2 separate regions of the Homo sapiens genome follow, and region 2 is linked to region 1. The links come from fine-mapping of genetic effects on gene expression. A gene starts in region 1. The other region holds a variant in brackets. All regions are shown on one strand. Distances are from middle to middle.

Region 1 (5,382 bases):
AGAGTAGCTGGGATTACAGGCGCCCGCCACCACGCCCGGTTAATTTTTTGTATTTTTAGTAGAGACGGGGTTTCACCGTGTTAGCCAGAATGGTCTCAATCTCCTGACCTCGTGATCTGCCTGCCTCGGCCTCCCAAAGTGCTGGGATTACAGGCGTGAGCCACCGCGCCCGGCCAAAACCAGGTCAAATTCTAAGAAGGGATCCCTTTGCAGGAAAATTGTAAAGACATTTATCAATTTATTCAAACATCTGTAGAGCTACCTCTCAACCCACCTTTATGAGCCCCTAATCTTTAGCTCTTAGCATTATACTGAGCCCCACAGGAGATTTTAATGCTAAACTCCTAAAATCCAACCTGTTTTTTTAAAAAAATTAAACTGTACTTCTAAAAGGAAATTTCAAAAGTACAAAAGGGGAGAAAGATTTTTCTCCCTCAGCCAAAATCAAGCTAATGAGGTATTTTTATGTAAGCTTTGGGCTATGTACTGTGATGCTAATTTCACAAACTACAAAAACTGGGCAGGACCTCTACTTCAAGATGGCAGGCTTCCAAGCAGGCCCCTTTCCAATCAAGAGGGCTATCGTGATTTCCACAGAAGTCCTTACAAAGCAAATACATCAAACGCTTCAACAAATGGTACAAGGAGCCAAGTTAAAGATCAAATAGCACTCCAAATGCAGGTGGGATACCGGATTCCATTTTAGCACTCTATTACTTGAGGCTGTCATTCAGTTCTTGTTGCTGTCCCTTTGCTATACAAGACTTAAGTTTTTAAAAGTCCTTTTATAAAGTGCAAATTACTTACATAGAAATGCTTCATTCATTCATAAATACTGAACAGCCTGGCACTGCTCTCAGAAAATGTAATTGGCATCTATCTTGTATAAAAAAAGGATAGTGGTTTGTCATTTCTTAATATTTAACGAGATTTCCTAAGTGTTGCATTAGGTCCTGTGTTTTTATTCCTTAAATGGGGCCATGGAATAGCAGAAGTGATTCCTTACACTGAAAACTTTGAAAGGGCAAGCTCTGGTATAGATTCTACAAAATATGCTAAGATGTAAGATGTCAGGTGACCAGAACATTCTTGCCCTCCTTCTTGGCCTAACATTACGCATTTCAGTCTCTTGCAGATAAAGTTATTTTCATGATGATGGCACTCCCAACATCCCTATACCCCTAAGTAAACTCCGTTCAATCATCTTAGGAAGTTTTTGTCTTTTGCCCTCTTAACAAGGCAGGACAACGTGTAAAAGGTAGAGCTACTAAATATAAAGGTTAGGTGTATGTGTAGGGGGGTGGCTCACACCTGTAATCTCAGCGCTTTGGGAAGCCAAGGTGGGAGGATCACTTGAGCCCACGAGTTCGAGACCAGCGTGGGGAATATGGTGAAACCCCGTCTCTACTAAAAACACAAAAATCAGCCGGATGTGGCGGTGCGTACATGTAATCCCAGTTACTTGGGAGGCTGAGGTGGGAAGACTGCTTGAGCCCGGTAGGCTGCAGTGAGCCGTGACTGTGCCACTGCACTCCAGCCTGGGACACAATGAATGTTGGGAGCTGAAAAGGATCTCAGATCCCATTTTCCAGATGAGGATATTCAAGGCCCCAGGAAGGTGTAATAGACTGCAAGATCACAGGGGCAGGAAGGAGAACTCAAGTCTGCCATCTTCTTAAGCAGCAGTGTTCATCGCATTACTGCAGGAATTACCACCCTTTACTCATCAATCTACCTGCAAGCAGTCAGAGGCCCCAGACAGCCTCAAAGGCGGCATTCTATTGGAAGCTGTCCGAGAAATACAGGCTGAGCTTTAACAAGTCAGCACAAGCCAAGAGTTATTTACCAGGCAAACGTATCTTTGGAGGAAAAGCCACAAAAAAGCAGCAAGGCAAATAGTCAAGACGGAGATGAACTTCTTTGGCAGGTAAGTAATAACTAATACCATTTATAGTAGGCGTTTTTCGTGCCAGGCACTATGTTAAGTACACTTTCACGTCAGGTTTAATTCTTTGCAACAAAGGTGCTATCGTTATTCTCACTTAGCCAATGAGGAAACTGAGGCTCAGGAAAGCGAAATGGATTACTCAAGTCCCATGGTGGCTCAGATTTGAACTCAGGCATGTCAGGTTCCAAGACCAGCTACACATGGTTTTCTTCATCCGGAAAGCCAATGCCCAGCTCCACCGGGGCGGCGACTCAGCTCTGAAACCACGCCCCATCGCACCCACCCCCGCGAGGGTCCCTAACCCCTGATATTTATTTTAAACATGTCATTGTCTTCCGTTTCACCCAACCCCCACTCTTCTACCCTCTCCAGGAGCCCGACCCTACGTTCTGGCTTCCGTTAGAGCAAAAAGTAACGTTCCACTCAGAGCAACGTCCTGCAGCTAAGAGTAAGGCTGGGGGGTGGGGGGTGGGGGGTTGGGGGTTGGGGTGGAGGAAGTAGGAAACGAGCAAATGGTCGGCGAACGCTTTGACCCACCAAGCCCTTTAAATGCACTTAACCACCGCCCGGGACTACGGTCGCTTCACACTGCGTGCGCAGCCCAAGTTCTAGGAGACCGGTTCGCAAGACCTTAAACCTCAGACGCGCTGGCCCTCAGCGGTTAGAAGCGGACGCGTCTCTTGCCGGGCGGGGTGCGCGCCCAAGGGCCACCCACTGAGCGCGGGTATAGACGCGGCGAGCCACGCACTGGCTCCGAGTTGTGTGCGGGAAAGGGCTGGGCCGCTGCGGGACAACCTCCCAGGGGGCAGGCAGGCTGGCTCTGCCTGGCAGGCAAAATCGGGACCGGCCAGCGCTCCCGGCCGCTGTCCGGCCTTTGGCGGACGCACGTGCCTAGGGCTTTCCAGCGCTGCTAGCCATCCTGCAAACGACTCAAGTCTCCACGCCGCCCGCACTTCGGGTGCGCACGCCACGCAGGAACGTCCCCATGGCCCTCAGTTATCCCAGGTGCACAAAATCAGGGGCTTGCCCAAGCGGGCAACGCCTAGGCAGGCCACCAGTTAAGGCAGCGCTAGGCTGCGGAGTTGGAGAGGGTCGGCCCGCGCCCGCCTGCGTCCAGCACCCACCGCGCCCGCCCCTCGGGTTCGCCCGCCCAGCCCTCACCGGCACGCGGCGAGCGTCCATGCTGGTGGCGGGTGCCCAGATCGGCGCTTGGAGCGGGGAGAGCGGAGCAGCCGCGCGGTCAGCGGTCCCACAGCAGGAGGAGCAGCAGCAGCGCGGCTGGCAGGCTGGGCGCGCCGACCCGGGCCCGGAGGGGCGGGGCTCGGGCTGTCTTTCCCGCGTTGGGACACAGGTCCTGCAAGCTGTGGTAACGGCCAGACATGGCGCAAGACTAGGTGGCCCCCTGGAAAAAACACGACCCCCCTATATATTCTGACCTCAAAGGATAGCCTTGGGCACTCCTAAAATCCCCTTTGAGAAAGGGGGGCTTTAGGGGCTACGGGGACCACTCTCCTTGTGCAGCTGCGCGGTCCTGAGCGAGTGGCGCGAAAATGGTTCGTATTGCCCCGGGGTTAGCTGTCTGATTTGCAAGAATTTTCGTGGTGGCGGAGGAAAAGTGGAGTCTGGGGGGTAAAGGAGAGCAGCGTGAGGGTGGCGCGGGTCACGCACCATGGCGTTTAGCACTTTCATTGCTGCGTGCGGTTTACAAGATTTAAAAAATCATAGAATCCAGCACGAACTCCACCCTTCATAATCGAGTTCACCGCCCCTGGATGTAGCACCTCTTATCTGGGAACCACACCATTATCTGAAGCAATAAAATGAGTTAAATCCTGATCTTTCTTTCCAAAAAGCACAGGAAGCCGACTTGTTTACTTGTGGTTTTCAAAGTAGAAGAAAAGCCGCAGCAGCTTGATGAAGACGTCTATAGTATAGTTAACCTTTAACGATTATCTGTTGGGGATTGAAACTAAAGATTGAACAATTGTGGCTTGATGATCTTCTCTGTCTTCAGAATTGAGAACTACCCTGAGTCAGTGCGAACGAGAAAACTTTTCATTGCCCTTTTAACCAAACTTGGCATTACAACGAAAAAATGAAATAAAGCGAGGCTTTTTGTGTGCGTGAAGAGCAAAACTTGCTTCTACAAGAAAAAGTAAATTTAGTTTCTTTAGAAGACACTAATTATACTCTTAACATTTAAAACAAGCGCTTGAAATGAAAACATTCGCATTTCCCCCTCATTTCAAAACTTTTCTCTGGGGAATAATTAATTCCTTTGCAGTAAGAGAGTGCATGGACATACTGTGTTCCTCTCTTGGTGTACTGAATACAAAAACTGTGAGCAAGTAAATAATGCCCGAGGACAATGGATTGGAAGGAGTCTTCCAGCCTTTCTTAAATATACCTACCCAGTAATCACTCTGCCACTGTGCAAGGGACAAAGAGCTCAAGGTCTAGAAGGTGAGTGCCAGGAGGAGAGGCTATCGGTGGGTGGTGAAATTACGGAATTACAGGGCCCTCAGTAAGTATTTGTTGAATGAATAAACATTTGGGAATATAATTTTGTGCCACTAAAGCTAAATATATGAAAATTTGGAATTACTAGATCCATGAAGCAGGGGAAGATTAAGTCACTTTGCCTGTGAAAGGTTCTGATAGGGAAATTTTTAGTCTTCCTGGGAGCACAAGAAAATAATTTGGTGTATGTGTTTTTTAAGGATAAGATCTCTGGTCTATTCGTCTTTTTAGTAATCAGGAAAATGCAAATTAAAACAAGTGTCACTGGAAAGGGGTCCCGATCTAGACCCCAAGAGAGGGTTCTTGGATCTTGCACAAGAAAGAATTCAGGGCAAGTCCGTAAAGTGAAAAAGCAAGTTTATTAAGAAAGTAAAGGAATAAAAGAATGGCTACACCGTAGATAGAGCAGCCCGAGGGCTGCTGGTTGCCCATTTTTATGGTTATTTCTTGATTGTATGCTAAACAAGGGGTGGATTATTCATGGCTCCCCTTTTTAGGCCATATAGGGTAGCTTCCTGATGTTGCCATGGCATTTGTAAACTGTCATGGCGCTGGTGGGAGTGTAGCAGTGAAGACAACCAGAGGTCACTCTCCTCGCCATCTTGGTTTTGGCTGGCTTCTTTACTGCAGCCTGTTTTATCAGCAAGGTCTTTATGACCTGTGTCGTGTGCTGACCTCCTACCTCTTCCTGTAACATAGAATGCCTTAACCTCCTGGGAATGCAGCCCAGCAGGTCTCAAGGCTTATTTTGCCCAGCTCCTATTCAAGATGGAGTTGCTGTAGTTCAAATGCCTCTGACACAGGAGATACAATTTCACTCAGACTGGCAAAATTTAAAGCGCCTGATAAGACCAGATATTGTTAAGAATATGAGAAACTCCCACAATGATGTTAGTAGTGTAAATTTTTAACTT
Region 2 (5,382 bases), 27 kb after region 1:
CATTATACACTCTCTTTTCAAGTGCTCAGCAAACATAAGCAGATACATCATATCGTAGGTCAGAGCAACAATCCCTAAGACATTTAAAAGAATGTACATCACACAGAATGTGTTCTCTTACCATGATGAAATCAAACTAAAAATGAATAACGTAAAACTAAGAGGAAAATCTTCCAACACTTGGAAACTAAACAACACACTTCTAAATAATCCTTAAAAAGGAAGTACCAAGGGAAATTAGAAAATACACAATACTTAATGAAAATAAAAATACAACATATTAAAATGTGCCAGACACTCCCTGTTGATAGGGAAATTAATAACCTAAATGCATATATTAGGAAAGAGGATAAGTATCAAATCAGTAATAAAAGCTGCCAACTCAAGAACTCTGAGAAATAAGGGCAAACAAAACCAAAAATATCCAGAAGAAAAGAACAATGATTCAAGTATAGATCAATGAAATTTAAAACAGGAAACCAATAAAGGAAATCAATGAAAGGAAGAGCTGGGTCTTCAAAAAGATCAATAAAATTGACAAATCTCTTTTTAGACTGACAAAGAAAAAAGAGAATACACAATGGCCAATATCATGAGTGAAGCAGGGGATATTACTACAGACTCTGCAGACAACACAAGGAAAATAAGGAAATACTATTAACAAACCTGCCAGACAAAAATTTGGCAACTTAGATAAAGTGGACCAATTTATCAAAAAACACAAATTGCCACAGCTCACCAAACACGAAATCAATAGTTTGAATAGTTCTATAACTATTAATAAAATTGAAGATGTAATTTTAAAATTTTCCCCAAAAGTCATAACCAGGCCTGGATAGTTTAGAGAAATTCTACCAAAAAATTAAAGAAGAATTAACACCAATTCTATACAATCACTTCCAGAAAATAGAAAAGGAAGAGACACCTCCCAACTTATTTGATAAGTATTACTATAATGCCAAAAGCAGAAAAAGACAATACAAAACCCAGCAAACTACAGACCAATATTCAAAGAGGGAAACTTTCTAACTTGATAAAGACCATCTACAGAAAACCCACAGCTAGCACTTCACCTAATGGTAAAAGACTGAATCCTACTCTGTACAGTTGGGAAAAGGCAAGGTTGTCCATTCTTCATTCTAATTACTTCTATTTAATACAGTACTGGAAGTCTAGCCAGTGCAATAAGGCAAGAAAAAGAAATAAAAGCCATACAGTTCAAAAAGGGAGAAATAAAATTGTTTCTATTTGCAGATGACATGATTATTTATGTATAAAGTCTCAAGAAATCTACAAAAAAACCCCAAAACCTTTCTAGAATGAATATTTATGGCAAGATTGCAGGAAACAAGTTAATATAAAAAATCAATTGTATTTCTATATATTAACAATGAGCACATGGACATTGAAATGAAAAATACATTACTGGCCAGTGTGGTGGCTCATGCCTGTAATCCCAGCACACTGGGAGGCTGAGGTGGCAGGATCACCTGAGTTCAAGGCTGCAGTGAGCTATAATCACACCATCTCTCTCCAGCTTGGGCGAAAGAATGAGACCCTGACTCCTAAAAATAAATAAATAAAAATACATTATCATTCACAATAGTACCAATAAAAAAGAAATAGGTGTAAATCTAACAAAATGTGTACAGGACTTACATGTTGAAAACCACACAATGTTGTTGAGAGAAATTTAAAAATATATAAACAAATGAAATACTGTGTTATTGAGTTAGAGATCTGATACACTAAAGATATCAGTTCTCAAATTGATATACAGTTTAATACAATTCCTAGCCAAATACCAGCAAAGTTTTTGAAGGTATAGAAAATAAAAAGCAGGCGAGGTGCGGTTGCTTAAGCTGGTAATCCCAGCACTTTGGGAGGCCAAGTCAGGTAGATCACATGAGGTCAGGTGCCAAGACCAGCCTGGGCAACATAGTGAAACCCTGCCTCTACTAAAAATACAAAATTAGCCTGGCGTGCTGGCACACGCCTGTAGTCCCAGCTACTCAGGAGACTGAGGCAGGAGAATCGCTTGAACCTGGGAGGCAGAGGTTGCAGTGAGCTGAGATCACACCACTGTACTCCAGCCTGGGTGACAGAAGGAGACTCTGTATCAAAACAAAAAAAAAAAGGAAGGAAGGAGGGAGGGAGGGAAGGAA[A/G]GAAGGAAGGAAGGGAGGGAGGGAAGGAAGGAAGGAAGGAAGGGAGGGAGGGAAGGAAGGAAAGTAGAGTAGCTAAAACAATTTTTAAAAAGAATAAATGGGGCTGGGCCTGGTGGCTCAAGCCTATAAGCCCAGCACTTTGGGAAGCTGAGGCGAGTGGGTCACTTGAGGACAGGAATTCAAGACCAGCCTGGCCAAAATGGTAAAACCCCATCTCTACTAAAAACACAGAAAATTAGCCAGATGTGGTGGCATGTCTGTAATCCCAGCTTGTTTGGAGGCTGAGTCAGGTGAATCGCTGGAACCTGGGAGGTAGAGGTTGCAGTAAACCGAGATCACAGCCACTGTACTCCAGCCTGAGAGAAACAGCAAGACTCTGTCTCAAAAACAAACAAACAAAAAGAATAAATGGAGAGAAATTGGTCTATCCAATTTTAAAACTTACCATATAGCTATAGTAATCAGAATCAGAGTGTGGTATGGTGAAGGGATAGACACATACATCAGTGGAATTTCTGTTGAGAACCCCAAAATAGACCACCACAAATATACCTAACTGATATTTGACAAAGCTGCAAAAGCAATTCAATAAAGGAAAGATAGCCTTTTCAACAAGCAGTGCTGGAGAATTGTGCATCCATAGGCAAAAAAAAAAAAAAAATGAACCTCAACCCACTTTTCATACTTTATACAAAAATGACCTCCAAATGGATTATGAATTTGACTGTAAAATGTAAAACTATAAAACTTTTAGAAATAAACATAGGAGAAAATCTTCAGGACCTAAGCTAGGTAGAGAGTTCTTAGACTTGACATTAAATCATAATTCATAAAAGAAAAATTGATAAATTTGACTTCATCAAAATTAAAACCATTACACACTGCTAAAGATCCTGTTATAAGTTTGAAAAGACAAGCTACAGTTTGCAAGAAAGTATTTGCAAGTTGCATATCAGAGAAAGGGCTAGTATCTAGAAAGTATAAAGAGCTCTCAAAACTCAACAGTGACAAAGTAAACAATCCATCTGGGCATGGTGGCTCATGCCTATAATCTCAGCACTTTCAGAGGCCTAGAGAGGTAGCTCACTTAAGCTCAGGAGTTCGAGACCAGCCTGGGCAATATGGTGAAACCCCATCTCTACAAAAAATATAAAAATTATCCGGGTATGGTGGACTGTGCCTGTAGTCGCAGCTACTCAGAAGGCTGAGGTTGTTGCAGGAACCAAGGAACTGAAGAAACCAATGGGTGGAACAGGAGGATTCTATTTAGGTGCACTGGCACAGCAGATTTGCATCCAAAAGGCTGAGCCCCAAACAAAGACTTGGCTTGACTTTTATACATGCATCAGTGGTGCAAAATGCAGTGGTGCGAAAGCAGGTTTATAGAAGCAGAATAAAGGCAGTTTATTAAACAGCAACAGGCTCATAACTCAGGCTTTCATGTGATTCTTGCTATGCGGGCCAGGTGGCTGTTATCTAGGCTTGCTGAAGATGCCCGCATAATCTTATCTCGTGTCCTTCCCTATGGCACCCAGATGGCTACAGTCTAAGCTTTCTCAAGCTTGCTCAAAACTTGCAGTGCAGGATACAATTGCACGGGGTGGGGAGGGATTCAAGGGGGAAACTGTTCATACCACAGGAAAGGAAGAAAGTTTGTTTTTTTTCTTCTTGCATCTTCTGCTTCAAGGTAAGAGGATTGCTTGAGCCTGGGAGGCAGATGTTGCAGTGAGCTGAGATCATGCCACTGTAGTCCAGCGTGGGCAACAGAGTGAGACCTTGTCTCAAAAAAAAAAAAAAAAAGTAAACAATCCAATCAGAACAAGTGCAACACATGAAGAGACACTCCACAAAAAACAAGATGTACAGATAGTAAGTAAGCACATGAAAAGATCTTTGGTATCATTAGCTATTAGGGAAATGTACATTAAAACCACAATGAGATATCACTACACACCTATCATAACGGTTAAAATTAAAAATAGCAACACTGCCAAATGCTGGTGAGGATGTAGAGAAACTGGATCACTTATACATTGCTGATAGGCATAGAAAATGAGACAGCTACTCTGGAAAACATTTTAACAGTTTCCTAAGAAACAAAGCATGACACTACCATATGACTTAGTCACAGAGATTTCCCTGCAATAAATCTCACCAGACCCATTAGAAGAGACTGGCTGCCCAAAAAACAGCAAACAGCAAAAGTATGCTTTCAAAGGGGAAGCCATTGCAAAAAAAAAAAAAAAGAAAAGAAAATGGCCTTAAGAGAAAAACCAAGAGAAAAACAGAGAATTGCAAACTTGTGTTCACACAAAAACCTGTACATGAGTTTTCATAGCAGCTTTATTCCTAATAGTCAAAAATTGAAGGAAAAAATGCCCTCAAATATCTCTCAATAGATGAATGGTTAAACAAACCATGATACATCCATACCTTGGAATACTACTCAGAAATGAAAAGGAACAAACTACTGATACATACAATAATGCATTACGAGAATTATATTGAGTGAAAAAAAACCAATTCCAAAAGGTTACGTGCTGTATCATTTCATTTATGTAACATTCTTTTTGCTGTTGTTATTTTCAGACAGGGTGTCATTCTATCGCCCAGGCTGGAGTGTGGTGGTGTGATCATGGTTCACTTCAGCCTTGACCTCCTGGGCTCAAGCAGTCTTCCTGCCTCAACCCCCAAGTAACTGAGACTACAGATGTGCACCACCATGCCTGGTTAATTTTATATTTTTTGTAGAGATAGGGTCTCACTATGTTGCCTGGGCTGGTCTTGAACTTCTGGTGTCAACAATCCTCCCACCTCAGACTCCCAAAGTGCTCGGATTACAGGTGTAGGCCACCATGCCTGACCCTATAATATTCTTGAAATGGAAATATTATAGAAATTGAGATGAGACTAGTGGTTGCCAGGAGTTAAGGAAGGCATAGAGGCAGCAGGAAAGTGGACATGGTTATAAAAAGGCAACATGACACATCCTTGTGGTGATGGAAATATTCTTTGTCTTCACTGTATCAATGTCAATATCCTGGTTGTGAATAGTTTTGCAAAATGTTACCACTGGGGAAAACTGGGTAAAGGGTACATGGGACCTCTATTACTTGTTACAATTACACATAAATCTATAATTTCCTCAATATAAAAAGTTTAATTTAAAATTAAGGCTAAGCATAAAAACACTGAACAGTTGTCTATTAAAGCCTAA

Which allele goes with the higher level. Positions count from the first base shown, and alleles are read on the strand shown. Sizes are in standard deviations (SD) of each study's normalised expression.
For the expression in monocytes of the gene that starts at base 3,222 in region 1, allele A in region 2 goes with a lower level than allele G (large effect, 1.0 SD a copy in CEDAR).

Evidence for each region. PIP is the estimated chance that this variant, and not a neighbour inherited with it, causes the effect. A credible set is the group of variants that fine-mapping cannot tell apart.
Region 2: its variant is the best candidate, but not a certain one, in a credible set for the expression of CDCA7 in monocytes (CEDAR, PIP 0.55).

Annotation. Positions count from the first base shown.
Region 1 is chr2:173,352,712-173,358,093 of GRCh38, reverse strand. It overlaps CDCA7 (cell division cycle associated 7), which reads right to left and starts at 3,222. Exons shown (of 10, transcript NM_031942.5): 1 at 3,110-3,222. The coding sequence starts at 3,130. RefSeq lists a silencer at 3,011-3,280 and enhancers at 3,831-3,920, 3,223-4,178.
Region 2 is chr2:173,325,913-173,331,294 of GRCh38, reverse strand. No RefSeq gene overlaps it. Among named protein-coding and RNA genes, the nearest start is that of CDCA7, 26 kb to the left of the region's middle. The variant A/G (reference allele first, on the strand shown) is at 2,166.